Homo sapiens: one gene and its partners. The protein of the gene in region 2 interacts with the protein of the main gene of each other region in a pairwise test. Each region holds a gene or a part of one and is shown on either strand. Other genes may lie near its edges.

Region 1 (4,795 bases), on a different chromosome or scaffold from region 2:
GCCACCCTGGGCCCCCAGTGTTCAGGAGGGAGGTCTCCCCGTGAAGTCACATGTCAGACGGGAGGCCTGGCTCTTTCCAGCACAGCTCTGCCCACTGTCTGCTCCATGACCCACCCTCAGAGCTCCAGGCCAGGGTTCCAATCCTGGCTCGGTATGGGATGTGGGCAACAGACCCGTTCCCTTTCCTGAGCCTCTGTCTCCTCTTCTCTGAAACCGCCCCCCGAGCCCCACCCCTAACACCCTTGGAGGCCTCACCCTGAGCAGGTCCCCACCCAGGTCACAGGCTGCACCCCTAGCCCTAGGGCGGGAAGCAGGCTGTGTGCAAAAGGCTTCCCCTGAGCGCAGAAGGCAAGTGTGGATGGTGTCCTCCCACTCAGGGGCCTGGGGATGCTCACGGGGCACAGATTCTCCCAGAAAGAAGCCTCTGGAGGTGTAATGGGCACCCCAGAGAGGGAAGGCGCTGGGGTTCAGGGTTGGGGGAGGCCACCTGTCACCGGGGACCCTGCTGTAGTGTTTGAATGCTGTATGGTGGGTGTGCAGCTCTAAAACAAATTTTGAAAAATGGGGGTGCTCAAATCAGGCCAAGGGGATGGGTAGGAGCTTGAATGGTAGCAGTCCCTCCCCCCGGAACGCTCTCCTTCCTGTGAACTTTCTGGGTCCATCCTCCCAGCAAGGAGGGGTCATAGATGAGTCGCAAGGCTCAGAGAGGTCTGGCCACATGCTCCAGGCAGCACAGCAAGTGCAAGTCCTGGGAACTGCCCTCCCACCCTCTGCAGGGACGTCCTCCTTTCAGGGGCCAAGCTTTGCTCCTGTTAGGGCGGAGGCTGCAGCCCATGTGACCAGGGCCCTGGTCCAGACACAGCCCTGGATCCGGTGCCCGCCTGGGGTGTGCAAGGACAGAGGGTCTCTCTGGCTTATCCAACAGGTGTTTATTAAGGGCCTACGCTGTGCTGAGGCTGCCATTCAGGGAGCCCCACGAATGTGAGGCCTGGCCCCTTCCTCCAGGCCTCCAGGCCCCATCTCTGGAGACTCCCAGGAACTCACGTCGACTCCTGTCCTCCAGTTCTACTCAGTCCACTTCATCTCAGCCTTTACCGGGCCCTCCTGAGTGCCTGTCCCCTGCTGGGTGCGGGGGACACCACGGACCAGACCTGGCTCAAGTCATAGATGGGGTGGGCAGGGAAGGCTTCCTGGGGGAAGAGGTGCCTGAGCACAGGGTTAAGGGTGGAGAATGCTGGGCCATGGAAACAGCAGCAGAGAGGGTTGGAGGGGCCATCTGCAGGCGGATCTGTGTCAATAGAGCCGATCTGCCGGGTGGGAGTCCTGGAGAGGGCCATGGGAGGGTCAGGGTGGGGGACAGGGGCGCAGACATACATGGTCAGACTTGCGTTAGGATGTGCCTCAGGAACCAGGACAGGCTCCCACTGGGCCGGGTGTGTGAGGAGTGGCACAGAGGCCTGGGGCACCACACCCAGTGTGGGCTGCAGCGGGGCCCCCCAGAGCCTAGAGCTGGCCGGGTCCCCAGAGCAGCAGGCCGAGTGCAGGGAGCAGCGCAAGGATGGCAGCAGCCGGCTGCAGGGCATGGGCCCCGCTGGCGTTGCACAAGTCGGTGTCACAGCACGTGATGTTCTTCTTGCCCACGTAGTAGTCCTGTGAGTCATCCACGCAGTTCAAGCTGCAGCCTTTGCTGATGACGGTCAGGAGGCCAACTGCGCCTGGGGAGCAGCGGGATCCGGGGATGGGGCTGCCCTGTGTGCTCACCTGCCTGACCTGCCCCAGGCCTCCTCCTGTCCCACCCTGCCTAATGCTCTAGAGTCCCCCTGGGCTGGCCTCAGGATTGCAAGCAGTGCGAGGGCCTGGTCTCGGCCCTGGTCTCAGCCCTATCCAGATGTCCGAGGCAGATGGACCACCCGCTGAGCGTCAGAAATGGGGTGAGTGAGTAAGTGAGCTCAGGGATGGGGAGGGACAGATGGGTGGAGGAGTGGAAGATGGAGGATGGGGAGGGACAGATGAGTGGAGGAGTGGCAGATGGAGGAGGATGGCTGGAGGGACAGATGCTGGGTGATTGTTGGGGGTGCAGGTGCGGGACGGGTCGGGGACAGGTGGAAGGAAAACAGCACACAGATGCGGACAGATGGCCAGAAAGATTAATAGTTCAGTGGCAGAGACCTAGGCCTGGCGGCTGTCGTCCCCCCACTCACGGATGCGCGCGGTCCAGCACTGCTCCCCCAGCTGGGTGCAGTTCTCCACCTGCAGGCAGTCCTCGTTGCTCACCTGGGCTTTGCAGGAGTAGCACAGCAGGGCAGTGCCTGTGGGGTGGAGTGGGAGGGGCCTCAGAGGCTGCCCCATAGCACTCCCCAGGAATGGGGGCTCCCAGGCAGGTGGGCCTCCATGGCGGTGGCCTGAGGAAGTCCTCGGCGCCCTCTTGTCACCCTCAATGTCTCCTCCCCATCTTCACGGCCCCCTGCTCAGTGCCTCCGAAATGTTGCCCTGTTTAGTCCCTCGGTGGCTGCTTTTGTGACCGTGTGTTTCAGAAGAGGAAGCTGCGGCTGTGGGGGTGACTGAACCCGGGACCCTGGGTCGGGAGGGTCCCACCTCAAGCAGAGCAGCTCCCTGGGACCCTTGGAAGCTGCAGTGCTGGGACTGGGCCGGATGTAGACCCCCGGGTCCTCGCAGGACACCCCCAGCACCTCCCCCTTGTGCCCCAAAAACCACTTCTTAGCCTGAGGCTTCCTGTCCCATGTCTCCCAGCTCCTCATCAGCATCTCTGCCCATCCATCCGTCAGTCTGTCTACCTGCCCCCTAGGAGCCAGGCCCTGCCCCACGGTGGTGAAGGAGAGTGACTCCGTGCTGCCCCTGCAAGCCCCGGTCACAGGGGACGGCAGGGAACAGGTCGCTGCCTGGTCGTGCCAAGAGCTTCCCTGGAGGAGCGGAGGCTAGGGCAAGAGCCTCACCCCCTTCCTCTCCCTTCCTCCTTCCTTCCCCTCCTCTCCGTGTGCCCTGCAGGTATCCCTCTGGCCTCCCCGGCTCACCCCTGCTCCCTTCCCTGCTGGGGGCCAGCCAAGGCCTCACCTGGCTGCAGGGCCAAGCCTGCCATCAACAGGGCAAGCAGCACAGCCTTCGTGGTCACTGGTGGGCTGTGGTGGAGAGGGCCTCAGGTGACTTTATATGGCCTCAAATGGGGAGAGGCTGGACTGCCCACAGTCAACACCAGCGGGTTTCCTGGAGCCAGTGAGGGCCCCGGGGCTGGGCAGGTCCGAGTCTCCTCCCTGAGCGACCTGCACCTCCCTCTCCCTTTGTCCTTCTTTCCACCTCTGGAGGACAGAGCCTACCCAGGGCCATATCTCAGCCACCCCGGGCTGAGGGCTGAAACGTCCTCAAGACCCAGATTATGCCTCTCCCACCTCCCCCACCTCACAGTGCAAGGCCAGACAAGGGAGACCCTTTCTCCAGACTCCTCCAGGCCTCGGCCTTCCAGCCAAGGATGAGGGCACCTCCCTGGGCCCTGTGCTCCTATAGAAGCTGTGCCGCCCTCTGGGGCCCACGGCCCGCAGGGTGATGAGCCTTGGTCACAGCGTCACTGACAGATCATTAGCAGGTGCTGCAAAGGACAGGGGCAGGGGCTGTTCCGGTATAAACCAAAAGTAACATTCTAAGGCCCCCCAGCCATCTGAGTGGAACCCTCCTCTTGGCAAGGGCTTTCCGAAGTTAACCTGAAAAACTGGTTCAGGCCATGACAGCAAAGGGTTGGATAGCCTCATTATCCCTCCTCCCTTCAGAACTCTGGAACAGCCAGCGTTAACATCAACACAGGCCTTCAGTCTGATGAGAAACATTTACCATCTATTGTCTCGGAAGCCTGCTACCTGGAGGCTTCATCTGATGATAAAGCCTTGGTCTCCACAACCCCGTATAACCCAGACATTCCTTTCTATTGATAACTCTTGCAAGCGATTGCCAACCAGAAGATGTTTAAATCCACCTATAACCTGGAAGCCCCCAGTTCCAGCTGCCCACCTTTCTGGACTAAACCAATGTATATCTTCAATATATTTGATTGATGTCTCATGTCTCCCTAAAATGGGTACCATCAAGCTGTGCACTGACCACCTTGGGCACATGTTCTCAGGGTCTCCTGGGGGCTGTGTCACAGGCCATGGTCCCTCATATTTGGCTCAGAATAAATGTCTTCAAATATTTTACAGAGTTTGGCTCTTGTTGACACAGGGGACAGCCTCCCTGGGGAGGAGACCCTGTTGGACGGGCCTTCATTTATGGGGCATTCAGTGTGGGCTGAGCCCTGGGCTAGGTGCTTTACCCTCAGGACCTTGAGTGACCCCCTCAGCTTGGAACTTTAGCTGCAAACGAGTCGGGGAAGTGCAGCTTTTAGCAGCCTCTGCAGTAGCAGGAGGCAGCGGCTAGGCCCAGGGCTGTATGGCCTCTGTTTGCCCCAGATCCCCTCTCCGTCCTGCTCCATGTCCTGGGAGGCTGGTCCAGCTCCCACAGGCAGGAGATGAGAGAGTGGAAGAGGCAAGTTCAGGCCAGCTCTCCTGCCAGTCAGCTGGGAGGTGGTGGCAGTGGCTATGGCCCTCTAGAGCAGGCCCAGCCCGCTGGGCGGTGGTGGCAGTGGCTATGGCCCTCTAGAGCAGGCCCAAGCTCTCATGCCAGTCAGCTGGGCGGTGGGTGGTGGCAGCGGCTATGGCCCTCTAGAGCAGGCCCAGGCTCTCATGCCAGCTGGCTAAGTGTTGGTGGCAGTAGCTATGGTCCTCTAGTACAGGCCTAGGCTCTCCTGCCA
Region 2 (4,300 bases):
AATTCTGTTGGGGAACAAAACAAAAGGGAACAAGCTCATTGTTTAAGTGGTCTCAGGCTTCATGTGTATGCAAGGGATTTCCAGACGACTGAGGCAGCCGTGCAGGCCTGCTGACCACAGACATGAGCCTGAGCCACACTAATGTCCCTTTACAAGATCTACCCTGGCTATTTACCCCAGATCCTGTAGCATTCTCCCACAAACTATGGGGACCATCCCCTTCCCTTTGGAGATACTTTCCCAAAAGATTTCTGGGACCTGATTTCTGAGTAAAAATGGGATTTTCCCACCATTTACCAACCTTTGAGGAAGGCATACGTTGCAATGGGAAAGAAAGGCAGCTGAAACACAAGCTCGCAAAACAGAAAGGACTTAAACCAGGCTGGGGGCTCCTGTAGCAGTGGGTCTTTGAACTCCTTAGCATACCACTTCAGCAGGTTTCTAAACTGAAAAAGAAAACGATCATGATGAATTACAGCCACTTGCCCTCAACAGGCTCGGCGCTAGCTCATTTGAAAATACACTGGAGGAGCCTGTCATTAATTAGCCACCCCCCACTACCCCGGCAGCAGATGGCATGTCCAGCTGGCTTTTGTGACACAGCCTAGGTGGTCATTTAATAAAAACTTACTATCCCTAACTCAAATGTTCCCTTCTCTGAAATTTTCTCAACTCTTCCAGCCCCTTCTTTGTGTTACCCAGAATCTGTTCATAATTCCAAGATAACACATCCAGGTGTGTTGGCCACTGTCAGGAGCAACAATAAGTATCTGGCACTTGGTAGGCACTCAGGGTGTTCGCTGAATGAACAAATGTGACATTTCTGTCAACAATATCATTCTTTGTTTAAAAAAACAAATACACATGAAAACCATCCTGACACTTTCCCTTTTGTAATGGCAACTACACACCAAACTCCTCCAAAGGCCAGATTCCCTCAAATGCAGAAATGAATTGAATTTCCCTCTTCTTTTTGCGGGGTGGGGGTGGGAGTGAAAGGGGAAGTAAATCTAACCTCTGTGGCGATGTAATTTTGGACACTTTAATTCCAATATGACAAACAAGTTCCTTAACTCCCCTAATTCTAATTTTTGGTTTATTTTAGGAGACAGGATTTTAGTGGAAGAACAAACTCTGCCCCAAACTACAAACTACCTAGTAGCTTCTTGGTTATGCAGGGTTTTAGCGTCTCAGTTCTAGCTTGGGCCCCACGCTTGTAATTACCTTGTCAAATAAAAAGGATGCGGATCCATGCTGACCTGGCTACAGGCAGAGAAAAGAAGCAGAGTTTAAGGCTTCCCATCTTGGGCTTTTATAGGAGCCCAAAGCCTAGTGCTCTTGGCTCTATGTGGACTACTAAACGTTTGTCACATTTAACCTCCTAGATGTGGCGCTGCCCTGACACACAGGCCTTCAAAGACAAATAAGTCTTGATATTATGATTAATAAAGGCAACTCCAGGGTAAGAATTTATCTTACTTACAATGGAAAATCCAAGAATATTTTTCCTGTTAATTTTTAATCAAAAGATAAAGCCTCGCTATTGTGAAATAGAAGCCCCACTGCTGCAAGAGCACTTTAAGCAAACATCCAGAAACAAATATCCTGTTAGCATATTATTAATTTCAGAAAGGCTTTGGCTAGATAACCAATTTATTGACCAAAGGATATCCAAATTTGTACTTAATTTGAAATTGAAATTCATAGCAATGCCCTTCGCTTCCTTCTAAGCACTTTTCTGGATGGGAATGTGGTTTGAATAGGATTGAATTGATAAGAAACACAAAGGCTAAGTCACTGTCCCTCTCCAGGGTTCTACTTCCTCATCTGTAAAATGAGCAACTTGGACTAGATGTTTTCTTAAGATCCCTTTTTTGCTTTTTAGATTTTTAAAAATACTGGATGACACTACCTGCTTTAAAAGATTGACTATAAAATTATTATTATTTTTTTTGAGACAGTCTCTGTTGCCCAGGCTGGTGGAGTGTGGTGATTTGATCTCGGCCCACTGCAGCCTCAACATCCCGGGCTCAGATGATTCTGTCACCTCAGCTTCCCCAGTAGCTGGGACTACAGGTATGCGCCACCAAGCCCAGCTAATTTTCTGTAGAGACGGGGTTTTGCCACATTGCCCAGGCTGGTTTCGAACTCCTGGGCACAAGCGATCCTCGCTTCAGCCTCCCAAAGTGCTGGGATTACAGGTGTGAGCCACTGCACCCGGCCTGACTGCAAAATTTAAGAGGCATTCTGGGCCAGGCCCGGTGGCTCATGCCTATAATCCCAGCACTTTGGGAGGTCAAGGCGGGTGGATCACCTGAGGTCAGGAGTTTGAGACCAGCCTGGCCAACATGGTGAAACCTCGTCTCTACTAAAAATACAAAAATTAGCTGGGTGTGGTGGCTCACGCCTGTAATCCTAGCAACTCTGGAGGCTGAGGTTGCAGTGAGCCGAGATCGAGCCACTGCACTCCGGCCTGGGTGACAGAGCGAGACTCCATCTCAAAAAAAAATTAAAAAAAAAAAAAGGCATTCTGGCCATTTGAACTTCACTTTCTATTCAATTTGTTTACAACCTCTCTGATCCAACTATTTCATAAACTGAGGCAGACTTGTACAGCACTTTAATTTCTAAGGCCTACAAGATGAGATCAGCAAAATTTAAAAAACAATCACCCAGATGTCGTAATAATGAATTATCATAATCGTAACCAACCATCTGCCCACAGTCATATACCTGCCACCTGATGCCAGAATGAGGCTGGGACTAATTGTGAGTAGGAGAGTAGAAAGCCCAGGCACCTGGCAGATGGGTGAGGCGTGTAGGACCTGGGGTAGAGTGCCTGGCTTTAGGCAAGGCCTTTAATCTCCCTACACTTGTGTCCCCATCAATAAAATAGAGCCAGTAATAGTGCCTACTTCACTATTGGTAAGAGAGTGACTTAATACATGTAGTCTTTAAAATAATGGCTAGCACATAATGATTAATTGAATGTAATTAATACATATTTGGAGATATTCAAGTTTAATCCCATTAAAATCGCAGCTCACGACTGGTCATTAAAAATTATTAGTTATGGCCTCCCTACCAAAGGTAATGAAACTGTTTCCACTTATACCTGACTCTATTTGACTCAACCCACCCTTGTTATACATAAAAGATTCACCTGGCCTGCACGCACGATCTCTAAACCAGTGGTTGCTACTCACCAATCTTGTACTTCTATAATTTAGAATGGGAACACAGACTGATTTCAGAGCCAGATGCTCACTTGTTTTTCCTTATTTTTACCAGAAGCAATGTTACCCAGCTGCAAATGATACTACAAAATGCTTCCCATCCTCTCCTTACCATGTTCTTATCCAAACTAAATTCTTACTGTTTCATAATAAAATAAGAGTTTTTCCAGGCCAGGCGTGGTGGTTCACACCTGTAATCCCAGCACTTTGGGAGGCTGAGGCATGCAGATCGCTTGAGGTCAGGAGTTTGAGACCAGCCTGGCCAACATGGTGAAACACCATCTATAACAAAATATAAAAATTAGCCAGGCGTTGTGGCAAGCACCTGTAATCCCAGCTATTTGGGATGCTGAGGCAGGAGAATTGCTTGAACCCGAGAGGCAGAGGTTGCAGTGAGCCGAGATTGCACCACTGCACTACAGCCTGGGCGACAAGAGACTGTCTCAAAAACAAAATCAAAAAAAAAAAAGAAAGAAAAACAAAAAGTAAATAAAAAAATGAGTTTTTCCAAGCAGTGATTTGGTGCAATCCAAGAAAAAAAATTTATTGTGCATGTTTCAGCCCAACCACTAGGTGATCTCCTACAGGTTTTTTAACTCTAGGGAAACATTCCTTCTATTTCAGGAAGAAAATGACAGATGTTAAATTTTGGCATTTTTCAAAGAGAATATGAGAATAACTCAAGGCGTTTATTATTATTTGCCCCATAGAGAAGCAACAAAATCAGCATTTCCTACACCAAAGCAACAAGAATGGAGGCACAGACCTTCCATGCCAGGATGCCACCGAGCTAATGCCTTCAAACATCATCACACACACAGATACACACACACCCAGGATGCCCGTGCTAATGCCTAAATCTCACACAAACACACACACACACACACACACACACACACACACACACACACAGGTTCTGGCCAGATGCTGCCTGCACTGGCCCTTGGGCCTTCTGCAGTAAGTCAGCATTAAAAAAATAAAGCTGACGCTGGGCACGGTGGGTCACACCTGTAATCTCAGCACTTTGGGAGCCCGAGGCAGGAGGATGGCTTGAGCCCAGAAGA
Region 3 (4,307 bases), on a different chromosome or scaffold from region 2:
GTTCTGCATTTATGTAACTTATTGAGCTGAAAAAAGTTTTATTCAATATCATCACTAATCAGGTATTTTGAGTATAGACGTCTTAATACCTTTGAAAATCATCTGAACTGGCTGCAAGAAAATTACCACTCATGGAAGAAACCTACGCAAACAGATGAAAGGCAGCTTTCATCAGCTTTACACGGACTAATCGCCTGATATATGGAACTTTTAATGACTGGTTTCAAGTAACTATTACGAAGGTGCACACCAGGAAACTCACAGAAACAGCTCTAATTGCAGTATTTTCATTCAAAAGAACAGTTAAATGAGCTGCCAACTGAACTGAAGAGCCTCAAATAAGCTAGGGGTGGGCCACGGAGTCAATTTAGGTTTTTATTTCATCAGGTTTCCTCTCTTAAAATTAGAGGTGCTGTAGCTGTTTCAAAAGTCCTAAGGGCACTGAGAACTACTTGCATCTGCTCAAAGATAACCCAAATGTTATCCCCTGTGTCAAGATTTCCAACCTCTAATTACCTCACAGAGCTGTGAAGGTTAAAACAAATGAACAGAGGTGAAAGTGCTTTGTAAGTTAAGTCTATCAACAAATGCATTGTAATTATTCCTACTCACATTTTCCTCTATGCTATACATTTAGGCCGTTTATTATTTTGTACTTAAAAAAATGCATTGCATTTGTTTCTATGTCCTTCAAGGTGCAATCAATGGTAATGCGAATAAATTATACTGTACAACATATATATAATATATATTATATATAAATATTTGACTACTATGTGATTATATTCTTTTTTTTTTTTGAGACTTTTTTTTTTCTTTTTTTGAGACGGAGTCTTGCTCTGTCGCCCAGGCTGGAGTGCAGCAACGCGATCTCGGCTCACTGCAAGCTCTGCCTCCCGGGTTCTCGTCATTCTCTTGCCTCAGTCTCCCGAGTAGCTGGGACTACAGGCGCCCCCCACCACACCCGGCTAATTTTTTCTGTTTTTAGTAGAGATGGGGTTTCACTGTGTTAGCCAGGATGGTCTTGATCTCCTGACCTCGTGATACACCCACTTCAGCCTCCCAAAGTGCTGGGATTACAGGTGTGAGCCACTGCACCCGGCCTGTGATTATACTCTTAAGATATTGCTTCATGTACATTTCCAAGAGCTCAGAGATCCAGGATATTTAAGTATTGCATGTCCATATTATTTTATTTGCATCATTTGACAGCAGATATTCTCAGCGGTGTTGAGAGGAAAAGGGAAGGGCACTGCATTTTCTTGTCCCATGGAAATCCCAACAAAAGCCAGGCTGTCAAATGGAGATCTACTAATGCCATTTGACCTGCTTGTTGGGGGCTTCGACAGCACAACTTCTGCCATAGTTTCTCATAAAATTGGAGTAAAAAAGCAACTGCAGGTGCTAGTGGCTCAAAAATGAGGTATTGTACCATCACTTCAGTTTGGAAAGAGGCTGGTCTGATTTATAACTCCAGAAGATAAACAGGAAACAAAATTTCCTACTTGGGGAGATGACATAATACCTCAGTCCTGAAAATGAATTCCAAAATCAAGGACTTCTGTTCTCCAACTTTTGTTGTTCACAGTCAGTGATTATCCAGAACTAAACAGTGCTGCTGATTCTGTCCAACCATACAGGCTCTAAACTGAAGCCCAAGCAGTTGTTGCTTGGACATGAGGAGCCCTGAATTTTAGTTCCAATTCTGTTACAACAACTGTGTAAAAGTAAATAAAATTCAAACGTTTTTAGAACCTCCAAAGCACCTTAAGCCTTGAAAGAGATATGACTATGATCTGGGTCACGTAACATGTTTACAATTCTGTTTCTTAGATTTTTAGCTTAACTCTTCCTCATTGTTCTTGTTCTATAAACAACTAAAAAAAGACTAAGTCTTTTTTTTAAAAGAGACCAGATCTCCTCCTTCTAATTGCTGATTTTTATTACAGATTAACTGCCTCCTTTATTGTCCTGTACCTAACTCAGACCAGATGGTGCCCCAAACAGGGGTCTCATGACAGTTACATTCTTTCTTCCCTAAAAAACGCACCTTGACTAATCAGATCATTATAACTGTACATTAAGCCTTACATTAAGATATTAAAATTCTGTTAAATGTCCCTAAATTTTGTCTATATAAACAATCCCAAATGTCTATACTGACGAGCACTGACTTCCATGCTTTTAAATCTGTCCTTTCCCAGGTGGCCTGTCCTCAACCTTTACACTTAAACTCTCTTTAAACTCGATTTTGACCTTTTAAATTATTTTAGGTTAACAACTGTGACTTTATTTCTTCACTTCCTTCTACTGCTAAATTTCTCTGATTCAGAGTTTCGGAATAGAGAAAAAGCCACATCAAAGCTAACATTAGAGTGGTTATCAGTGAGAAGCTGGACTGGCAAAACCAGACCATCACCCTCCCTAGGACACAGTTTCACAGTTTCAATTCTTTCAAGTATGAATTACTTTAACAAGAAAAATAAAGCCAATACTTGCTTCCTCTCTCGATATGCAAACTGAGCTTCAATGCCCGGTCAATGCCCATTCTCATCTACCACCCAGTCGCTCAGTTTCCTGACGGTGCCTACTCCGGAGGCACCTACACTGACCTAAGTGGCATGACTGGCATGTCAACTGCTAAACACTCTCACTACACCACAAATTTCCTTCTTGAAAAACAGATATTGCTCAAATTAATGTTTATAAATTTTTAAAATTTATTTTTTGAGACAGGGTCTTGTTCTGTCACCCAGGCTGGAGTGCAGTGGTGCACCCTTGGCTCACTGCAGCCTCGACCTCCCAGGCTCAATCAGTCTTCCTGCTGTGACTACAGGTGTGCACCACTAAGCTCAGTTAAATGTTTTATTTTTTGTAGAGATGGGTTTCACCATCTTGCCCAAGCTGGTCTCCAACTCCTGGGGTCAAGGAATTTACCCACCTAGGCCTCCCAAAGTGCTAGGATTATAGGCGTGAGGTAGCACGCCCAGCCAAAAATTAATGTTTATTGGTGCCAAATATTTACAGAATCCACAAGTGACTACAGTTCAGTTTTAGAATATGTAGATACTGTGCTCAATTGCTTCACCCTCAAAATTTTATTATTATTAATCACAGAATGTTAAGCACTTAGTTCCAAGCATATAAAGTAATATCTTACTGGATTTATTTTTTCATGTTATTTGGAGGCTCTGTTGCAGCGTTTTTTTTTTTTTTTTTAAACCCTAGATTCAGGCCAGTGCTGTGATTCACGCCTGTAATCACAGCATTTTGGGATGCCAAGGTGGGTGGATCACTTGAAGCCAGGAGTTTGAGACCAGCCTGGCCAACATGGTGAAACGCCATCTTTACTAAAAATACAAAAATTAGCCAGACGTGGTGGCACACGCCTGTGATCCCAGCTACTCGGGAGGCTGAGGCATGAGAATTGCTTGAACCTGGGGGGCAGAGGTTGCAGTGAGCCAAGATCGCACCACTGCACTCCAGCCTCGGTGACAGAACAAGACCTTGTCTCAAAAAACTGCCCAGATTTGATCATTACACATTGTACATATTTGTATAAAAATACCACAGGTACCCCATAAATATGTACAACTATTATACATCTATAAAAATTAAAAATACATTTTTAAAGAATGAATTCCTTTCAGTCAGGAATCATATCTTATTACTGTTAGTAGTGCGCAGGGTCTTACATGTTGTAGTGGCCACTAAAGGTTGTTTACATTAAACCCAAAAACAAGGTTATTAAATGTATAGAACATGGGATGTAATCTATTTCATGGTATCCTGTAAAATATGAAAAGAAGAGTTACTAATACTCGGTTTTGAACTGTTTAAGATTCACAAAAACTGAACCCCATCCATCTTGGAAACTGTGCAGTGTAACTGATAGAAGTTTGCAGAGAAACTGGCTTTGCTATTGCTCAGCTGGCTACATCTTATTGAGCAGTATCTTCAGACAGCAAACAAGCACAAGTTCCAGAGTCAGACAGCCCTGGACTTACATAAAGTTTCAGTCTCAGCTTCCTCATACGTAAAAGGCATTAGGTTGAACCATATCAAACTGCCACTCTTTTTTGGGGCGGGTGTGGCAGGGGAAGTGCTTTGCCTTGTGAAGTTTATAATGAGATAATGAAGGTAAGGCATTTAGCATACTGCTTGGCACATCATATAGGCTCTCAGTAAATGGAAGCTACAGTGTTTGGTTAATATTATTAACAACCGCCAAGGAATCATGATAAAACTAGCCATGTTTTGATATGATAAAAACTAGCCATGCCTGCCCCAGAGCTGCTCCACATAGC
Region 4 (4,307 bases), on a different chromosome or scaffold from region 2:
AGAGAGGGAAGAGGTGTTCCGGACAGAGAAGGAGAAAGAGCAAAGCTGCAGGCAGAAGGAGTTTGTCCAGAGGCACCAGCTACATGGACGAGCTTTCCTGACTGTCCTCAGGACCCAGCTCCCATGGGGGAACCCAGCTGCCTGGCTCCTGGGGACTGGTTCAGGGGTCTAGTAAGGTTCAGCCCTGGTGAGACTTGGTGAACATCAAGCAGCATCACAGCTGCTCACAGTCTTGAATAGGAGGGACCTTGGCAGGAGCTCGTATAGTCTGACCACTCTTCCCCTACAACAATCATCCAGCCTGTACTAGCTCTTCGCTACCATCAGCGTAGACTAGCATATGATGTGTATTGACCCCTGACTCCATGCAAGGCCACTATGGAAGCAGGGAGGGGACAAAAGGAAATATATGTTTTAATCTCTGCCCGAAGAATGAACAGTCTGGTGGGAGACTGGCCTCACCTGTCTACAGAGATAACAAATGCCAGGCAAGCATGCCAGCTGTCAGGGCATGGTGCAGAATCTGAGGCTGCAGGAGAGAGGGTGGGGCTCCTGTTCTTGGTCTGGGCTCCCTGGTCTGCAATGGCAGTGGCTTAGGGGGAAGGCCCTGGGAAGCTCACTCTGGTGATCCTTGTTCCTCCACAGCCCTGTTCTGTGCATACATGGAAGCAGCCATCTCCAACATCATGTCAGTGGTAAGTGTGGATTCTCCTGAACACTACCCCAAAGTGCTCTTCCCAGAGCTTCTGGACATATGGGGTTGTGGGGTCTGGGAAAGGAACATTGAGCGGGTAATGGTAGCTGGTGCTCACACGACATCTCTGTTAAGGTTTATCTAAGGTTGTCCGGAGGAGGATTGACAATTGCATACATGTACCTCTAGGAGAGGGAGGGGTGTGTGTGTGTGTTGAAAGATTGCAATGTAACTAGCAGTGGAAAACACGACGGACAGATGGAGCTGTGTGACTGGACATGGGGGAACATCCTCAGGCCAATTTTCAGCTCCATCATTGAAAGATTCTGATTGTGGCTCAAATTATCTGTTTTGTTTTTGTTTTCTTTGCAAGACAGGGTCTCGCACTGTTGCCCAGGCTGGAATGCAGTAGTGCAATCTTGGCTCACTGCAGCTCCAACCTCCCAGGACTCAAGCCATCCTCCCAGTTCAGCCTCCCAAGTAGCTGGGACTAGAGGCATGCACCATCATGCCCAGCTGTCTTTTGTATTTTTTTGGGTCTCACTTTGTTGCCAAGGCTGGTCTGGGCTCAAGTGATCCTCCCACCTTGGCCTCCCAAAGTGCTGGTATTACAGGCATGAGCCACTGCATCCAGCCCTAAATTCTTTGACCAACTACTGTGACATTGCAAATCCAGGAATATCAATGCCTTCACTGGAGGGAGGATCTCCATCCTCAACGCCTGTCACATCCTTCTCCCCCAGAGTCCCCAGCCCAACACAGGAAACTAGGAAACTTCTTCAGTCCCCAATGCTTTTGTTTCCAGGTGGGCGTGCCACCAGGCACCTGGGCCTTCTGCCTTGCCACCATCATCTTCCTGCTCCTGACGACAAACAACCCAGCCATCTTCAGACTCCCACTCAGCAAAGTCACCTACCCCGAGGCCAACCGCATCTACTACCTGACAGTGAAAAGCGGTGAAGAAGAGAAGGCCCCCAGCGGTGAATAGCCATGTTCGGGGAAGAAACGCTCTTTGCCTGACCTGATGTCCTCTCCCTGTGTTCTCTGCTCTGGTTCAATCAGTTGCAGCACTCACCTTCTTTGCCTCTCCTTGCACCTGTGTAGAACCAAGCACACCTGTAACTTTCTTTCCCTGAAGCTGATTTTCATTCTCTGCCAGAATCTCCATAACTATCTATTGTGCGACATTAAGGGATGTTGGTATTACAGTAAAATTTCCGGAGTTAGCAATAAGGTGTGTGTCTTAAATGTTGTTGACTTAAAACAAAAACAGTAGTCTTTTGGAAAGGTAATTAACAGGTGATCTTCTTGGCATCTTAAACTAAATAATAGATGCTATAAAATTAAACTTGTTGAGTGGTTCCTAGGCAGACACAGAGTAGGGGGGTAAGTCAGGGGACACAGGCTAGGAAGGGAAGGCTCTCTAGTGGCTGAGCTAGAGACTAATGACCACAAAGAGAGGAATTTCACACTGATGGGATTTTAAAGTCAAAACAGGGACGATTGGGGCAGGGAATTATCTAAATAAGGAGTCTTAACCATTCAGTGGTCTTTGTAAGGGGCAAGGCGATATTCCATAGCAGGGAGGAATTAATAAATTAGAATCCTATATATGACTTTATTATGGAGGATAAGCATTTCTTAGTTTAGGTCAAACCAGCATCTCTTTAAAATTTAATTTTTTTAATTTTAAGTTCTGGGATACATGTGCAGAACATGCAGGTTTGTTATATAGGTATATATGTGCCATGGTGGTTTGCTGCACCTATCAACCCGTCATCTAGGTTTTAAGCCCCACGTGCATTAGGTAGTTATCCTAGTGCTCTCCCTCCTCTTGCCTCCCATCCCCCAACAGGGCCCAGTGTGTGATGTTCCCCTCCCTGTGTCCACGTGTTCTCACTGTTCAACTCCCACTTATAAGTGAGAACATGTGGTGTTTGATTTTCTGTTCCTGTGTTAGTTTGCTGAGAATGATGGCTTCCAGCTTCATCCATGTCCCTGCAAAGGATATGAACTCATTCTTTTTATGGCTGCATAGTATTCCATGGTGTATATGTGCCACATTTTCTTCATCCAGTCTATCAAGACTTTGCTATTGTATACAGTGCTGTGATAAACATATGTGTGCTTGTGTCTTTACAATAGAATGATTTATAATCCTTTCAGTATATACCTAGTAATGGGATTGCTGGGACAAATCAAACCAGCATCTCTAAGCAGAGATTTCAGTTAAGGAAAGTACCTGAGTTCCATGTGTAAAAAGCTTGGGAAATTTACTTCATTCTTCTATTTGCTTGTGAGCATGGGAGGCTTTATGAAGTGTATGATATTTAAAACAAATAGGTAGCCCTGACTATAGAAAGACAATTATCTATGAATTTCATAATTTTGTTTCTCAACTATAGTCAATAGCTTTCATTTGGTCTTTTTAAATATATATATACATATACAAAGATATATATAGATCGGGGTCAGCAAACTTTTTCTGTAAAGAGCCAGATAGTAAATATTTTCTGCTGGGAGGCCATATATTCTCTTTGGCAAAGTCTTAACCCTGTCATTATAGCATAAAAGTAGCCATAGACAACGTGTAAATGAATGAGTATGGCTATGTGTCAATAAAACTTTATTAAACAAGCAGTGAGCTAGATTTGGTCCACAAGCTGTATTTTGCAGATCCCTGATAGAGACAGTCTACATACTAATGCTTACAAACTGGTGGGCGGTGCACAGGCCCAAACAGACACCACCAAGTCCCTTGCGACATAGCAAAGGGGTTTTACATGCTGGTGACAGCATGAAGACCCTCAGGAAATGGAGGATACCCAGAAAAGTGACAGTAGCATGACTGGAATCAGGAGGACCTGCTCTGGGGCTGCTGGAGAACTAGGATACCCAGTGATGTGCACTAAGGGGTGCAGTTTTAAACCAAGACCCGCCTTCTACATTGTCTGGGAACTATTTCTAAGGTTCACTCTTCTCCAACCTCTCACTCTGTTGTTCTCTCATCTGCCAGAAAGCACACCACTCTTGGACAAAGAAAAACTGATGACCCTTCAGTGCTGGAGTTTTCCAGGCAGGAAGGACAGGGAGGTTCAGAGAATCCCAACGTTTGAAGGGAGTGTGAAGATCAGGTGGTCCGATCCCATGATGCATGAAAACCTCTATAATATTAGGATAAGGGCTTCAGTTCTCTGCCGGGTTTCCAGAACAGATTCAATTACCCAAAATGGAGGCAAGGCTCCCAAAGTATTTTAACAACAGATAACCAGAACCAGAGACCCCACTCATTGCCCTAGAAAATCCCCTCCTGTCTTCATTAAGCTCTTTGAGGCTGTCCACCCAAAGCATTGGGTCTGATTGGGGACTGTCTTTTAGCCATGCTTACTGGATCCCCAGGAGAGGAAAACTATTTGGATATAAAAAATTATTTCAGCTGATTTGGACAAGATTATCGCTTTCTTTTCCCACCAACTCCCCCCATCTCCCCCACCCCTGCCAACTCTTCACCTCATCTCACGAGACTGGAGAGCTCCTGGAGTGATCTTGTCCCACCTTCCCCAGGGCTTCCCCACCTCATCTACCTGCTGAATGGGTAGGTAAAAGATCTCTA
Region 5 (4,307 bases), on a different chromosome or scaffold from region 2:
TCCTTTCCATCCTTCTCCTCCTCCTCCTCCTCCTCACTTAGCCCAAGCAAGGAGGTTCGGAGAACTGGAGTGCGGTGACGCAATCATAGCTCACTGCAGCCCCTAACTCCTGGGCTCAAGTGATCCTTCCCCCTCAGCCTTCTGAATAGTTTGGACTACAAACAAGAACCACCGCACCCGGCTAACCATTTTTAAGTGTGCAGCTCAATGACATTAAGGACAATCACATTGTTGTACAACCATCACCACTATACATTCAGAGAACATATTTCATCTTGCAAAACTGAAACTCTGCCATATAACAACTCCCATTCCCTCCTTCTGCCATGTTTTTTTTTTCAAAAAGGCATTTTGAAAACCAATTGTAACTTACCAAGTCATGGACATAGCACATACAGGGAGTAACAGCCACCAGAAATAGTCTCCCTTGTCCGAAAAGACAGCCATGAGTACTCCCACCAGGGTGGCATTGTAGCCATAGAGCCCAGATGCTATTAATGACCTGTGGGGCAAGAGACACAGCACGGACATTTCCTGGGTGAGCTTTGGTTGCACTTGCACATAAATAACACTAGTAACTTCCAGATCATATTCATATTAAAAAATGAGATTATATTTGGAAATGTATTTCAAAGTCTACGTAAGCATCGTACAAAAACTAATAAAGACATGAAGTGAAATATACATAGATAAAAATATAAATGTGCATTTAGATCAGTGGTCCCCAGCCTTTTTGGCCCCAGGGACAGGTTTCATGGAAGACAATTTTCCATGGATGGGGAATGGGGGATGATTTCGGGATGAAACTGTTCCACCTCAGATTATCAGGCATTAGATTCTCATAAGGAGCAAGCAACCTAGATCCCTCACATGCCCAGTTCATAATGGGGTTCGCACTCTTATGAGAAGCTAATGCTTCTGCTGATCTGACAGGAGGCGGAGCTCAGGTGGAAATGCTCACTCGCCCACCGCTCACCTCCTGCTGTGCGGCCCAGTTCCCAACAGGCCACAGACAGGTACCTGTCTCCAGTGCAGGGGTTGGGGACCCCTGATAGAGAATGACTCCCTCTACAGGTGTCACGGCTAAAGACAGGTCTACAGTGGCTGAGAGGAAAGGGGAGTTTAGTAAGGCAATCTGCTCTGTTTTCTTTTAGCCTTTCCTTTGGAAAGTTATTCTTTTAAATCAAGAGCCTCTGACTTGAAGAGCGCTTTTAGCATATGAAACTGTTGCTTAAGTTTGATTTCTTGGTGAGAGATATAAGATTCCTGAAATGTAAATTCACTTTCACAGTGTCTTTGATCTTATCAACATTAATCTTCCAGGTTAGTATACATTTTTGTGTCCTGATGCTTCTATTTTGTTGTCTCCAAACGCACATTTCAAAGTTATTGCAAAGAAGAACAATTGCTTTTCTCTTACTTGGAGAAGTATCCCATTTAATTATGTGCATGTTGAGCACCCAGTTCTTTCTGAGGTTACTTTTTGCTTAGTATTCAATCTCATTTCTTCCCCGTCTTCTTCTCCTTCTTTAGATTGAGGGGGTACATGTGCAGGTTTGTTACATAGATGTATTGCATGATGCTGACTGAGGTTTGGGCTTCTATTGAACTCGTCACCCAAATAGTGAACAAAGTACCTGATAGGTAGGTTTTCAACACTTGTTTCCCTTCCTCTCCTCTTTTGGAGTCCCAGTTGTCTACTATTTCCATGTCCGTGTTTACCCAGTGTTTAGCTCCTAATTGTAAGTGAAAACGTGTGGTATTTGATTTTCTGTTACTACATTAATTCACTTAGGATATTGGTCTCCAGATACATCCATGCTGCTGCAAAGGACTTGATTTCAATCCTTTTTATGGCTATGTAGTAGTTCGTGTTGTATATGCACCACATATTCTTTATATAATCCACCATTGATGGGCACCTAGATTGATTGACCTGACAAGGCAGGATTCCCACAGCTCTGAGAGTTGGCAACGTCTGGCACCGTGAAAGGCACAGGATCCACTTCCCAAGGGCCTGTCACTCAAGGATGATGTCTGTAGGGGGATGGGGGAGTAAAGATGGTGAAGTGAGTAGGTGAGGCCTAATGCTGGGCTCGAGCAGGAGGTGCTATAGCCAGTGAGCCACACTGCAGGGGCTGGTAAGGGATAGTGTGACAGCTGCTTCTTGGCTTGTTTCTAACTGGGCCAGGAGGCACCATTGCAACAGGCAAGATGATGTCACGTACATTAATCCAGATGAACATTAAATGTGGGGTTCCCTATTCAAAAGTTCTTTGTTTCCCTTAAATAATCCTTGAGGGCAAATGGGAGGTGATACAATTTGCAAAGGTACAACTCAGAGACTGGGACTACACATGACAGTAGAGAGCCATGCAGACTTGTCCTCTCAACAACTGACTTGGAGATGTTAATGCTTGAGTTTGATCAGTGGAAAATTAATGGCAACATCTACAAATTGTGGAATGCCATAGTTAAAGCCACAGGAAGACATATATTTACTTAAAACAGAGAATTTCCATTTTAATGCAGTCTTTTCAGACCAAGGAAAGTAAAACATTTGAAACTAACACATATAAATGACTTGTCTTCTAAATAATATCTGACAAAAAATGAGTTGATCATGTTTCATCAGAGCAAAATCATAAAGGAATATTCAGTATGGCACAATTATAGACTCCATCCCCAAACTGAGGAGACCTTTTCTTGGCATGCATTGGAATAGAGTTTAACCTAAGCTATAAAATCCCCTTCTACAGGGAGCAAATCAGACTCCTTGAAATTGATAGAAAAGTGGAGCATTTGCTAACTCTCTCCCCACGGACCTCTTTAGGCAATTTGCAGCCAGTGTTACAAGAGCTTAGTTGTGTAATGACCACACTGGGGATTGGGATTATGCGTTGATCTCAGACACCTGGAATACTGGTTCCCTCCCTAAAGGAACTGGCTAGTGGGGAGCTATCTACTGCCCTGGTGAGAGTCAGCTCATCACTTCTTCAATGACAGATCAATTTATAAAGTGTGTGCTATTTTTAATCTAATCAATATATCAGAAGACTCACTAAGGCTTCTTAAGTCAGAATCCACTCAATTGGAATTCATGGTTATTCTTTTCTCCAGGAGCTGAGCTGACCTTTGCACTGTCTATGAAGAATGAGTTTCCTAAACTCATCATAGCAACAAGATATAACGGGGGTTATTAAGCCACTAAAACTTTTTCTGAATTCATATGCACTTTTTCCCAAATAGAATGCTGACGACAAATAATTTTATCAATCATTAAAGAAGATCCCTTCAGAACCTCTCCAGGGAAATACTTGTAGCTTAGTTCTGGTTAGCACGTAATGCCACAAGAATCTGGCATCATTTAGACCAGCCATTTATTCAGATATCAAGAGCAAGAGACTGTAACTGATTCCCTGACCTCTGACTAAAAACAAATATAAACAGTTCTGTGGACTAAATGTTGTTTATCCTGGGAAGGATGTGGTTTTATCACTGTTGCCCACAGTAACTGGTCAGCCCCTGTGTCTCAGAAGGGAGCTGAGAAGGCTTGAAAGGGTACACCTACCTGTCCTGGCTGAGCAAGAGGGCCATCAGAGTGGAGACCACTGTTCCCAGCCAGCCAGTGAGAGCCCACCAGGGGTTCTGAACAAGAAGTCCTACCAGAATCAGGATTCCACTGACGGGGTTGTTGACGAACACCACTTGGGATATGCCCCGGAGAATCCAGTCAATGAACTGGAGCACCACGGGTTTGTCTGGAAGGGATGAGGTAAAGCAGAGCTAAGGAAGCTGCCAAGTGATACTCTTCAACCACAGGCCCACCCTGAGCAAAATCAGCAAAACCTCCTGGAAGTGAAACATTTTTGATATTTCTTTAATATTTCTCTCTCAACCCATTGTTGCATTAGTGGCACCCAGATCCCTGAAAGCCTCTATCTACTGTATGCTCAACCCACACTGCCCCTCCTAGAATCTAAGCTCCTGAAAGCATCTAATGCACTTATTTTCATGCTTATAGGTACAAATTCTGAAGCCAAAGGAATAAATTTAAGTTTTAAGTACTGAAACTACAGGATGAAGCCAGGTGCCTTCTAATATGAGCTGGGCCCTGGCTACTGTCTCCATAAGAAAAAAAAATGGAGAGGTTTGCAGGTTAAAAGATAAAAGTAGAAAAATGGTGAGTAAAGAGATCTATAAAAAGTTGGAGAATATAACTAAAGGTATAAGTAGAAGTACCAGGAAACCATTTCCCCCAAAGCTACTTCTCCTGTCTCTCCAAAATGTGAAAGGATAAATACCTT
Region 6 (4,307 bases), on a different chromosome or scaffold from region 2:
CAACATAAAATGGGCAAAAGATACTGTTAGAATTTCACCACAAAAAGTACACATATGGCAAATAAGATATAAAAGGCTGTTTGACATCATTAGCTATTAGTAAGTGCAAATAAAAACACAACAAGCTATTACTGTATACCCATCAGAAATGGCTAAAAAAAATCATGCTAACACCAAATGATTGTGAGGATGGAGAGCAAACTGGATCACTCATAAGCTTGCTAGAAACATAAAACAGTACTGCCATTCTGGAAAACAGTTGGGCAGTTTTAAAATATACTAAATATGCAACCACCGTACAACCTAACAATTGTCCTCTTTGGCATTTATCCCAGAGAAAGAAAATGTATTTTCTAACAGAATCTTGTAGATGAATGTTCATGGCAGTTTTATTTGGAATAGCTAAAAACTAAAATCTACTCAAATGTTCTTCAATGGATAAATGGTTAAACAAACTGTGGTATATACATACCATGGAATACTACTCAGCAATAAAAAGGAATTAACTATTGTACTGATACATGCAACAACTTTGATGAACCTCAAGAAAATTAGGATGATTGAAAAAAGTTAATCTCAAAAGGATATATACTGTATGATTCTATTTATATAATATTCATGAAATAACATCATTAAAAAGATGGAGAACAAATTATTGGTTGCTAGGGGTTGGGATGGGGAGAAGGTTAGATGTGGCTATAAAGGGGTATTATGAGACAGCCCTGTGTTAAGTACATTGAACACGGAAGTAGTTACATGAAGCTATAAATGTGATAAAATTATATATATATATATATATATATATATATATATATACACACACACACACACACACACACACAAATGAGTGCATAACTCACAAAATATGAGTAAGCCGTATGGGTCATACCAATGTAAATTTTCTGGTTTTGATATTGTCTTACAGTTATAAAAGATACCAATACTGGGCAAAACTAGGTACAGAATGCATGGGACTTCCCTGTGTATCTTTGAAATATCCCAATAATCTATATTTCAAAAAATTTTTAAAAATCATTTATTGCTCTATAATGTATTAATAAAATCAAATATTATTTTCAAAATAGATTTGGGATTATTAATAACCATTGCTTGACAAGTTCATAATATTGGAAATGAAGTTTACATATTGGTAACATAATTTCTCATACAGTAAGGCTGAAAATAGAACTGAGCTACATGAGACATGTTTTCTTATTGCCCTAAGTGAAAATATTACTACTTTGAATTTTCAATTTAACCTCTAAAATGATTTTTAAAGGTATACTATAAAAAGCATGGGATTGTTTGTAAGGTTCAATTTAGCAAGATGCAATGAAAAAATAAAACAAAAATATTTCTATGTGAGTTAACAAGAAGACATATTGTTTGCTTCTTGGTAAATGACTTTATAAAAATTGACTTTACAAAGTACATCTAATTTCAGAACACAGTATCTTCCAAAATCTATTACCCTGGGAAAATGATGGTATCAAGTAAAATGACTCAGACATTATGAAAATTAAACTAAAAAGAACAATTGGTTCTTAACACTATTAATAATATAAACAAATAAGTTAATTTTACCTGATTTCCAACTTTGTCTCTTCAGATAGCTCTCCAAATTGTATCTCTTCTACCTGTAGTTCTTTAAGAGCAGCCAGAATTTTCTGCTGGTCTTTACTGGTAATTCCATTCTAAGCAGAAATAATTTTAAGGTACAGTAAGTTAGTTATACTTGAGTAATTTAAAACTCAAAATTGCTAAAGATGTTTTCTTGATGAATTCACATCTTGAAAAAATAGGCATATATTGGAAAAATAACACACTTCTAAAAAATATGTTTTTCTTATAACTGTGATTGATGTTAGTTACAGCATTAGAATATTGAGATATATAATAACTATAGTCAATTTTTTTGCAATACATAACAACTATGATGGACTCCCAAAACAAATTACTAGAACTTAATATGTAATATTTCAAAAAAACACAGTAAAACAAAATTTCCTTCAAATTTTTATTTAAAATATTATCAGTGATAAATGAGAATTAGGCCCTATCTTTGTTTGTATTCTACCTTTAGTGTTAAACTAAATTTTCTATACTGGATTTAGTTTTGTAGTATGCTTACTGATTTTTAGTGATATTAAAAATGTCAAGTTTCCAATGTGGTCATGCAGTCAGATCATTGCTTTTTACATATGCTATTTATCAAAGTGTCTCTAATACATCCCGCAGCTATATGTTATTAGATAATACTAGATGGCAAAATAAAAGGTCTCAGTTTTGAGAACCAAACAAAAGGCTTGGGAGACGTGTTAATACCCATATACATAAAAAAACTATCTCTTATTTGTAAGTGCCCCATTTTACAAATCTATTGCACATTTGAAACTGAAGGATCAGTTCTAGCTGTCATGACAATCTGAAAAAAACAAAAACAAAACCCAAACTATAAGTCATTACATGTTCTTAAAGTAACTTAATACTAACACAAGATTTTAGATACGGTTATCCATAATCATATCTAATCAAGGACACAGTAGAAGATCAATCTTTTGTCTATAGCCCTGGCATTTTAAAAAGAGAGAAGAAAAGGATCCACAATTTTAAAAACATCAAACAATGTATCGGGAATTTTTGAAATTGATACTAACCTTTGTAAATTCATCTTCCCTCATGGTCAAAAGATGTCTTAACGTTATATCCCTTTCCTGTATAAAAGGAAAAAAAGGCCACCTTTCCATATAATTAAAATAGTAGAAGGAGAAGTAGGCAAATGTTCATAAGTTAGTTACTTGCTTCACTCTGAAGCAAATTCCAATTTTCTAGAGGGGACAGGATATATACATGCAGAACTATGCTACTGAGTAGACAGTAATGAGTATCATAATAATTATATTCACCTAAAAAGTATAAATATAGCTAGTTTTCCAGATTCAAATGATTACCATTCATATTTGCTTACATTAAAAGAAAAGCAGTTCTATAAAATTTGGCAGAAATTATGTTTTATGAATATTTTAAATTTCTGACTGTATCACATTAAACCAACATGTAGTTTTACTCAAGATTTCTCCAAATAGGGAGACATTTCAAGATTATACAATGAAGCACAACTCTGAAATATTTTAACAGAATGTGCACACTCCCAAGAAGAGTCTATCTTAAATAGTGCTTTACTGCTTCAGTATCTCCACCTAGCTGGTAACAACTGTCATGGACTCAAACCCCATAATGTATGCTTAAAACACCCACACAGTGCTTGGCATATGATCTGATTTAACCTTCATGACAACCCAACACTAGGTATTATTATCCTTATGAAGAAAATGAGATATTTAAGTCACATATTTCAGTGATTAAACATTAGAGCAAGAATCTGATACCAGGTGTTTGGTTTAAAATCACGCTCTTCCAATATTCTACTCAAGAAGATGAGCAACTACAGAAACAAACTAAGGGCTCAGGTGTATATGAAGGTTAGGCAGTGGGTAAAAACTGTTTAATCTCAGATTCTAATTTATGTAAATTTCTAGAATAATACATTTTTGCAATGTTTTTCACAAATTTAAAATTGGGATGTACTACAAATTATGGTGAAAAGTAAATTGGCAGTTATTCATAGACATGTTTATGAATTAATATCTAACATTATATTAACCAACAAATTAACATATATGCATAACTCACTGTAGGTTATATAAGATCTTACCTTTAGTAAATCTGTCATATGTTCAAGTCCAAGACCATGTAAAAATACTTCCAGATCTCCAAATGCTGTATATGAACTGTATACATTTATAGCAATGTCAATTTCAGAACAGATTATAAATGCACAAGCGATAAATATACATTTATATTGCAAGAGAATATGAATAATAATGAATTCATGTAGAATATATTTGCAATCTGCACACCAGACCTATGCTATATCAAAGGAATAAGTAAGGTTTTGTGACTGAAGATATATGAGGAGTATAACTCATCTTTCCCCAAATGAAAATATATGCCAGTATGTACTCCTTGTGAAATTTCTGCACATAAAAATCTCCTCAGCCTGGTACAGTAGCATACACCTGCAGTCCCAGCTACTTGGGAGGCTGTGGCGGGAGAACTGCTTGAGCACAGGTGTTTGAGGCAAAAAAACCCACAAAAAACAAAAAATGAAAAAAAACCACACCTCTTTAATTGCAATAAGTAAAATTTAAGTAACTTTAAATGGGGTAAGGAGAGAATTATTTTTGGCCATGTACTCAACAGTGGTGTTCTGGGGGGAAAAGTATATGTTTAATTTTAGCTTATAA
Region 7 (4,775 bases), on a different chromosome or scaffold from region 2:
TGCCAACTCGCCCCTGAATTCCTTCTCACGATGGTGTCAAGAGCCTGGACGCTGGCCGGGGTGGAGGTCTCACTGGGGTTGGGGTGTCCCGTAGCCCCCCGCATCGAGGACATCTCCCTGCTTTCTCCTCTCGTCCTTCCCCCATAGCAGAGCGGCTGAGCCCAGGGCTGCTGCCCACCAGAGGACGGGGTACAGCCTGTGGCAGGAGCACCGGCCACCTCACTCCCTCCCTCTGGGTGGGGCAGCAGGACCCATAGCAGAGGGCCGTTATCTCCTTTGGGTGGAAGTTTCCAGACCGGCTCTGTTCTTTGGGAAGGAAATGGCTGGAGGTGCCATGCCTCCAGGTCCCAGTTCTGCCACCAAGGTCTCAGTGATTGACCTGGCTTTGGGCGGCGAGCGGACCATGGTCCTGACGGTCGCGAACTCAGGGCCCGTGGGACTGGGTGCCCTGTGCCTAGTTCACAAGCCTACAGCCTCAGGCTCCAGCACCATCCTCAGCATCCCATCGGGTCTCAGGCCTCCGTGGCTGTGGGCTCCCTCCCGGGCATGTCCAGGGCTGCAGCATCATCTTGGCAGACTTGGGACCTGGCGGACTCCCTGGGCTCTTCCCTGTCATCCTGCCCTTTCCTCTCCTGCTTCTTCTGTAACAAGAGGCAGGAAGGAGCCCGCGGGAGATGGGGAGACTCGGACCAGCCTCACCGTGTTGCCGCACACCCTTGCCTGCCCCTCCAGAAGCCTCTCTCGGGCCCAGGGGGACACACAGGTCTTAGAAATGGTTTATTGACAAATGGCTTCTGGGGAGGGGGCCAGGATTCCCTCTTAGCTACAGAAGGTTCCAGGGTCCAGCTACAAGCAGGGCCCTCGCACGGGGCTCACACAGAGCAAGGCCACTCAGCTGGAATGTGGCCCCTCAACACCACTGCGCCCAGGCTCCCGGACACTGGACCCCTTTGCAGGGGTCTGGGTGTCCCCTGAGGCCGGGGCCGGCTTCCCTCGGGGTGCTCGGTACTTGTTCTTCTGGCCGTAGAACAGGTTCCTCTGGAAAAGGTGGGGAAGGCGGCCCTGGTGCAGCAGCACAGCCAGGACCATCCCTGCAAGAGAAGGCAGGTCCCAGGTGGGCCGCGGGGCTCCTGGGCCCAAACACAGACAGGACACCCACTCCCAGGCCTGTGCCAGGACAGGCGAGCCAGGCAGCCTGGCCAGGAGCCCCAAGAACCCTGAGGCCCAGCTCCTGCCTGGTCCTGGTCTTCCCGCCCTGGTCATGCCCCTCTCTCTGGGTATGCCAGCCATGGGGACGGGGGCAAGCCGGTGGGGTTCCTTGTACTTCTGGACCACCCTCTGGGATGAGTGACTGGAATTCCCCTCCCCCCACATTGTCCTGAGCCACTCCCAGAGCTTCTGTGGCCATTTTCCTCCGGGACCTGATGTGGCGTCCCAGGGTGGCTGCTTGCAGGGCTGTGGCCTGGCGTAGAGGTGGGGGATGTGAGTGGACAAGAAAGATGTGGATGCCCCTGGGTGGGAGGCTGGGCCTGGCTAAATCCTCATGCGAACGTTCTCCCAGAACTCCAGGAGCAGAGACTCCTAAATCCCCGCCTGCCTTCCAGGTCATTGGGAAGGGCAGGTGTTCCGGGCAGAAGGGGAGAGTAGATCCTCTTCAAGTTTGATCTCACTCCTCTAAGGATTTAACCCACAGTGTGTGAGCTCCACTAGGGCTGGCCTGAGGGGGCCCTGCCTGTCACCACCTGCAGCTGCTGTGGCTCCTGACAGTGGCCCCTGTGCCTACAGCTTGCCTACAGTTGCCCCTCACTCGGCCCTCCAGGCCCACACTGGTCCTAGCTCTGTTCCCAGGAGGGCAGGCCCAGGGAGGCGGGATGACCTGCTCAGGGGTGCTGCCAGCAGGTGCCGGTGGCCGCTCACACCCAGGGAGATAGCCCCATGTCCACACCTGGCTACGGGGCTCCTGGCTGCAGCCTTGGAGCTCCCCAGGGCTCATGCTGATACTGAACTTGTGGATAAAGGGGTTAATGGAAGGACACAAGCCTGTTTTTCGGTTTCCTGAAGCTGCCCTAAGATGACAGGAAAGGGATGCTGTCAGAGGTGTCAAGCATCCAGATGGATGAGACGGGAAGAGACGCAGGAGCACAGCGTGGGGCTGACAAGCATGTGGACGACCAAACACTGCTGACATGGAGGGGCCGGATCGCCCCTCCGCAGGGACGAAAGCTGGGAAACAACCCAGTTCTTCCGCAGATGCCCCATGCTTTCAGAAGCTGGCGCCCGGGTCCCTGTGGGATGGGGTGGCCCTGGGACTCGCCTAGGAGGAGGGACGGCAATTCCGCATGGGAAGCTCCAGGGCCCCAAACCCCAAAATACAGAAGCAGCCAGTGCCCCCCTCCCTGGCCCTGGCAGGAGACAGGTTCCTCTCTAGAGGGGGCATGTGGACTCGAGTATCAGGCCCGCCCAAGCCTGGAGTCCCGCCTGAAACACGGATCCCAGCCTCCTCCTACTTGGCTCCTAGAAGCCGCAAATGCCCTTTGGGCTTCTCCACAGAGGCAGTTCTACAGTGAGAGGTTGCAGCCGGGTGAAGAGTATTTCCCCAGCGACACGCCCTTCCCAGAACACAGGATGTGCCCTTGTTAGAATACGGCCTGGGACATAAAATCAGTGAAATCACGGTGACGTCATACTTGAGTAGAGTGAACCTCCAATTCGATGACTGGTGTCCCTATATGAAGAGAACAGACAATGACACAGAGGAGGCGGCCAGGGGAACCGGCAGACATGGGAGTGCTGCGTCTCCAAGCCCGGGGACACCGGGGGTGCCAGAGGCCCCCGGAGCCCGGAAGAGGCAGGAGGCTCCTCCCCAGCAGCCTCCGAGGAGAGCTGACCCTGTCAGTGCTGCCAGCTCAGACTCCAGCCTCCAGAGCTGGCTGAGCATACAACCCTGTCACGTGAAGCCTCTTCGTTTGCGTCCTTTGCCTTGTAGCCCGTGAAGCCACCACAGGCCATGGTTGGGGCCTGAGAAACTCAGGACGAAACTGAGCTCCCACCCGGAACCCTGCCCAGGCCTCACCGACACTCAAGTGCAGGTCAGAACCAGGACACTATTTCAGACACAGGAGGTCTGAAGTGTACCTGCCAGGTCCCCGTTCTCAGGAAGCTACTGTGAGACGGGCACCAGCAAAAAGAAGGAATCAACCGAAACAGGAGGCGATGAGGAAAGCAGGAAACAGAAATACAACCAGGATCAGTGAAGGGCAGCACCATACCGGAGATGGACGCCTGCGGGTAACCCGGAGCTGCGGATCCTCGGGGGAGACGCTGCCCACACAGAGCACTGGTGCTGAACTAAGGAAAGCACCCAGAAGCCTGGGCAGGAGAGAGTCCAGGACCTCGTCACCCGCAGGAAGCAAGGCCTGTGCAGGAGCGGAGAGGCCTCCGGGGCCACCACAGCTCACCCGGGCCGTGTTTCCATGCCAGGGAACTAGAGGGGGCTCTGGAGCTGATCAGGAGGAAGAGGCCGACCCACCCGGAGTGAAGGATCCGCAGGAGGAGCGTGGGGAGGCAAGGAAAGAACATCCGCCCCCCACATCCCAGGAGACAGCCCAGGGTTGATACCTGAACTGAAGAGTCTCGGAGAAGCCCTGCAGGCCCAGTGTGTGGGGACAGAGAGGCCAACACGGAGCTGTTCCTAGCAGAGGGCAGTGCTGCCTCGGCAACGGGGGCAGGAGGGGGTTCCTGATGCACTTCGTATGCTTCCTAGGACCCTGCACATGCCTGAGAGACTGTGACCACATCAGAACCATGGCGACAAATCACGATGACGTCAGTGTCACCATCGCAGGGCCAGGTGCCTGAGAGACCCCCAGCTCCTGTCTTTCCCCCCAAGGGGAGGCTGAGGCATTGCCCCTGAGACCTCCCCAGTGTAGAGCCAGCAGAAGCTGAAAAAAGCTTCCAGAATTCCATAGGAACCCAGCTGCCCTTCTGGTACCTCAGTGAGGTGGAGCCGAGTGTCTGAGAGCAGGTGCAGGAGAAGGTGTGGGCTCCACCTGGGCCTCTGAAGCCAGGGGCCAGAATCCCCAGATCTAGGTCCAAGAGGGGGCTCCATGACCTCCCCATGCTGCTCCTCTGCTTGGATCCAGGATATAAGAAAGGAGGGGCACACACTGTGGGGGAACTCTGGGGTCCCCTGTGTGCATCAGCGAGTCCCGGGTCTGCCCCACCAGGATGCAAAGGGCCTGGCTGCTCCAGCCCCATGCTCACAGCCCTATAAGTGCACGATGGCACCCTATATCATCTAAGCGGGGCTCTCTGCCTCCTGAGGCTTTAGGGACACCAGAATGAGCCCCCCTCGGCGGAGTCTGGCTCTGGGTGTGTGGAGATGCCACCTGGGACGGGAACCCCAGGTGCATGGAGCCCCACTGCAGACACCATCCCCCGTGTGCCCAGCACCCCTTGCAAGGTTGGCCTTTCCCCAGCCTGTGGCCTCCTTACCTGGCTGCAGCTTGCTCGGCACCGGGACGGTGTCCACAGTGAGACATGCCGTCACAGCCCCTACCCCCCAAACCATGCCCACTGCAGAGACCTCCCCAGGAGCACTGACCAGGCACCCTCACCTCCACCCTGCAGGACCCCACGTGCCAGGATGCTCTGTGGGCCCCAGCAGCCCTAGGGACCCCACCCTGCCCCTGCCCTTACCTGTCAGAGGGCCCAGCCAGTACACCTGCACGTACTCCAGTAAGGTGTGTCCCGAGCAGGCAAAGGTCACAGAGGCG

Evidence for each region.
Region 1: the proteins of TMEM97 (region 2) and PSCA interact in a two-hybrid assay, tested with the Homo sapiens proteins (one large-scale study listed by BioGRID).
Region 3: the proteins of TMEM97 (region 2) and RNF170 interact in binary tests that used the Homo sapiens proteins (3 or more experiments, as listed by UniProt).
Region 4: the proteins of TMEM97 (region 2) and SLC14A2 interact in binary tests that used the Homo sapiens proteins (3 or more experiments, as listed by UniProt).
Region 5: the proteins of TMEM97 (region 2) and SLC14A1 interact in binary tests that used the Homo sapiens proteins (3 or more experiments, as listed by UniProt).
Region 6: the proteins of TMEM97 (region 2) and ASZ1 interact in binary tests that used the Homo sapiens proteins (3 or more experiments, as listed by UniProt).
Region 7: the proteins of TMEM97 (region 2) and AQP12B interact in binary tests that used the Homo sapiens proteins (3 or more experiments, as listed by UniProt).

The regions. Positions count from the first base shown.
Region 1 is NC_000008.11:142,678,841-142,683,635, reverse strand, and holds PSCA (prostate stem cell antigen preproprotein), read right to left. Parts: upstream 3,142-4,795; 5' UTR 3,098-3,141; coding exon 3,073-3,097; intron 2,310-3,072; coding exon 2,202-2,309; intron 1,716-2,201; coding exon 1,504-1,715; 3' UTR 911-1,503; downstream 1-910. UniProt on the Homo sapiens protein: May be involved in the regulation of cell proliferation. Has a cell-proliferation inhibition activity in vitro. May act as a modulator of nicotinic acetylcholine receptors (nAChRs) activity.
Region 2 is NC_000017.11:28,321,649-28,325,948, reverse strand, and holds part of TMEM97 (sigma intracellular receptor 2), read right to left. Parts: intron 447-4,300; coding exon 302-446; intron 1-301. UniProt on the Homo sapiens protein: Sigma-2 receptor which contributes to ameliorate dysfunctional cellular processes and slow degenerative progression by regulating cell functions including cholesterol biosynthesis/trafficking, membrane trafficking, autophagy, lipid membrane-bound protein trafficking, and receptor stabilization at the cell surface.
Region 3 is NC_000008.11:42,889,473-42,893,779, forward strand, and holds part of RNF170 (E3 ubiquitin-protein ligase RNF170), read right to left. Parts: intron 1-4,307. UniProt on the Homo sapiens protein: E3 ubiquitin-protein ligase that plays an essential role in stimulus-induced inositol 1,4,5-trisphosphate receptor type 1 (ITPR1) ubiquitination and degradation via the endoplasmic reticulum-associated degradation (ERAD) pathway.
Region 4 is NC_000018.10:45,642,487-45,646,793, forward strand, and holds part of SLC14A2 (urea transporter 2), read left to right. Parts: intron 1-645; coding exon 646-695; intron 696-1,499; coding exon 1,500-1,674; intron 1,675-4,307.
Region 5 is NC_000018.10:45,730,469-45,734,775, reverse strand, and holds part of SLC14A1 (urea transporter 1), read right to left. Parts: coding exon 4,305-4,307; intron 3,762-4,304; coding exon 3,572-3,761; intron 503-3,571; coding exon 374-502; intron 1-373. UniProt on the Homo sapiens protein: Mediates the transport of urea driven by a concentration gradient across the cell membrane of erythrocytes.
Region 6 is NC_000007.14:117,378,354-117,382,660, forward strand, and holds part of ASZ1 (ankyrin repeat, SAM and basic leucine zipper domain-containing protein 1), read right to left. Parts: intron 3,792-4,307; coding exon 3,716-3,791; intron 2,715-3,715; coding exon 2,658-2,714; intron 1,695-2,657; coding exon 1,585-1,694; intron 1-1,584. UniProt on the Homo sapiens protein: Plays a central role during spermatogenesis by repressing transposable elements and preventing their mobilization, which is essential for the germline integrity.
Region 7 is NC_000002.12:240,675,654-240,680,428, forward strand, and holds the end of AQP12B (putative aquaporin-12B), read right to left. Parts: coding exon 4,699-4,775; intron 4,555-4,698; coding exon of another isoform or gene 4,495-4,554; intron 4,132-4,494; coding exon of another isoform or gene 3,833-4,131; exon of another isoform or gene 3,786-3,832; coding exon of another isoform or gene 3,619-3,785; exon of another isoform or gene 3,370-3,618; coding exon of another isoform or gene 3,270-3,369; exon of another isoform or gene 3,158-3,269; intron 2,726-3,157; coding exon of another isoform or gene 2,688-2,725; intron 2,067-2,687; coding exon of another isoform or gene 1,946-2,066; intron 1,092-1,945; coding exon 892-1,091; coding exon of another isoform or gene 873-891; 3' UTR 765-872; downstream 1-764. UniProt on the Homo sapiens protein: Putative aquaporin. Could form homotetrameric transmembrane channels, with each monomer independently mediating water transport across the plasma membrane along its osmotic gradient.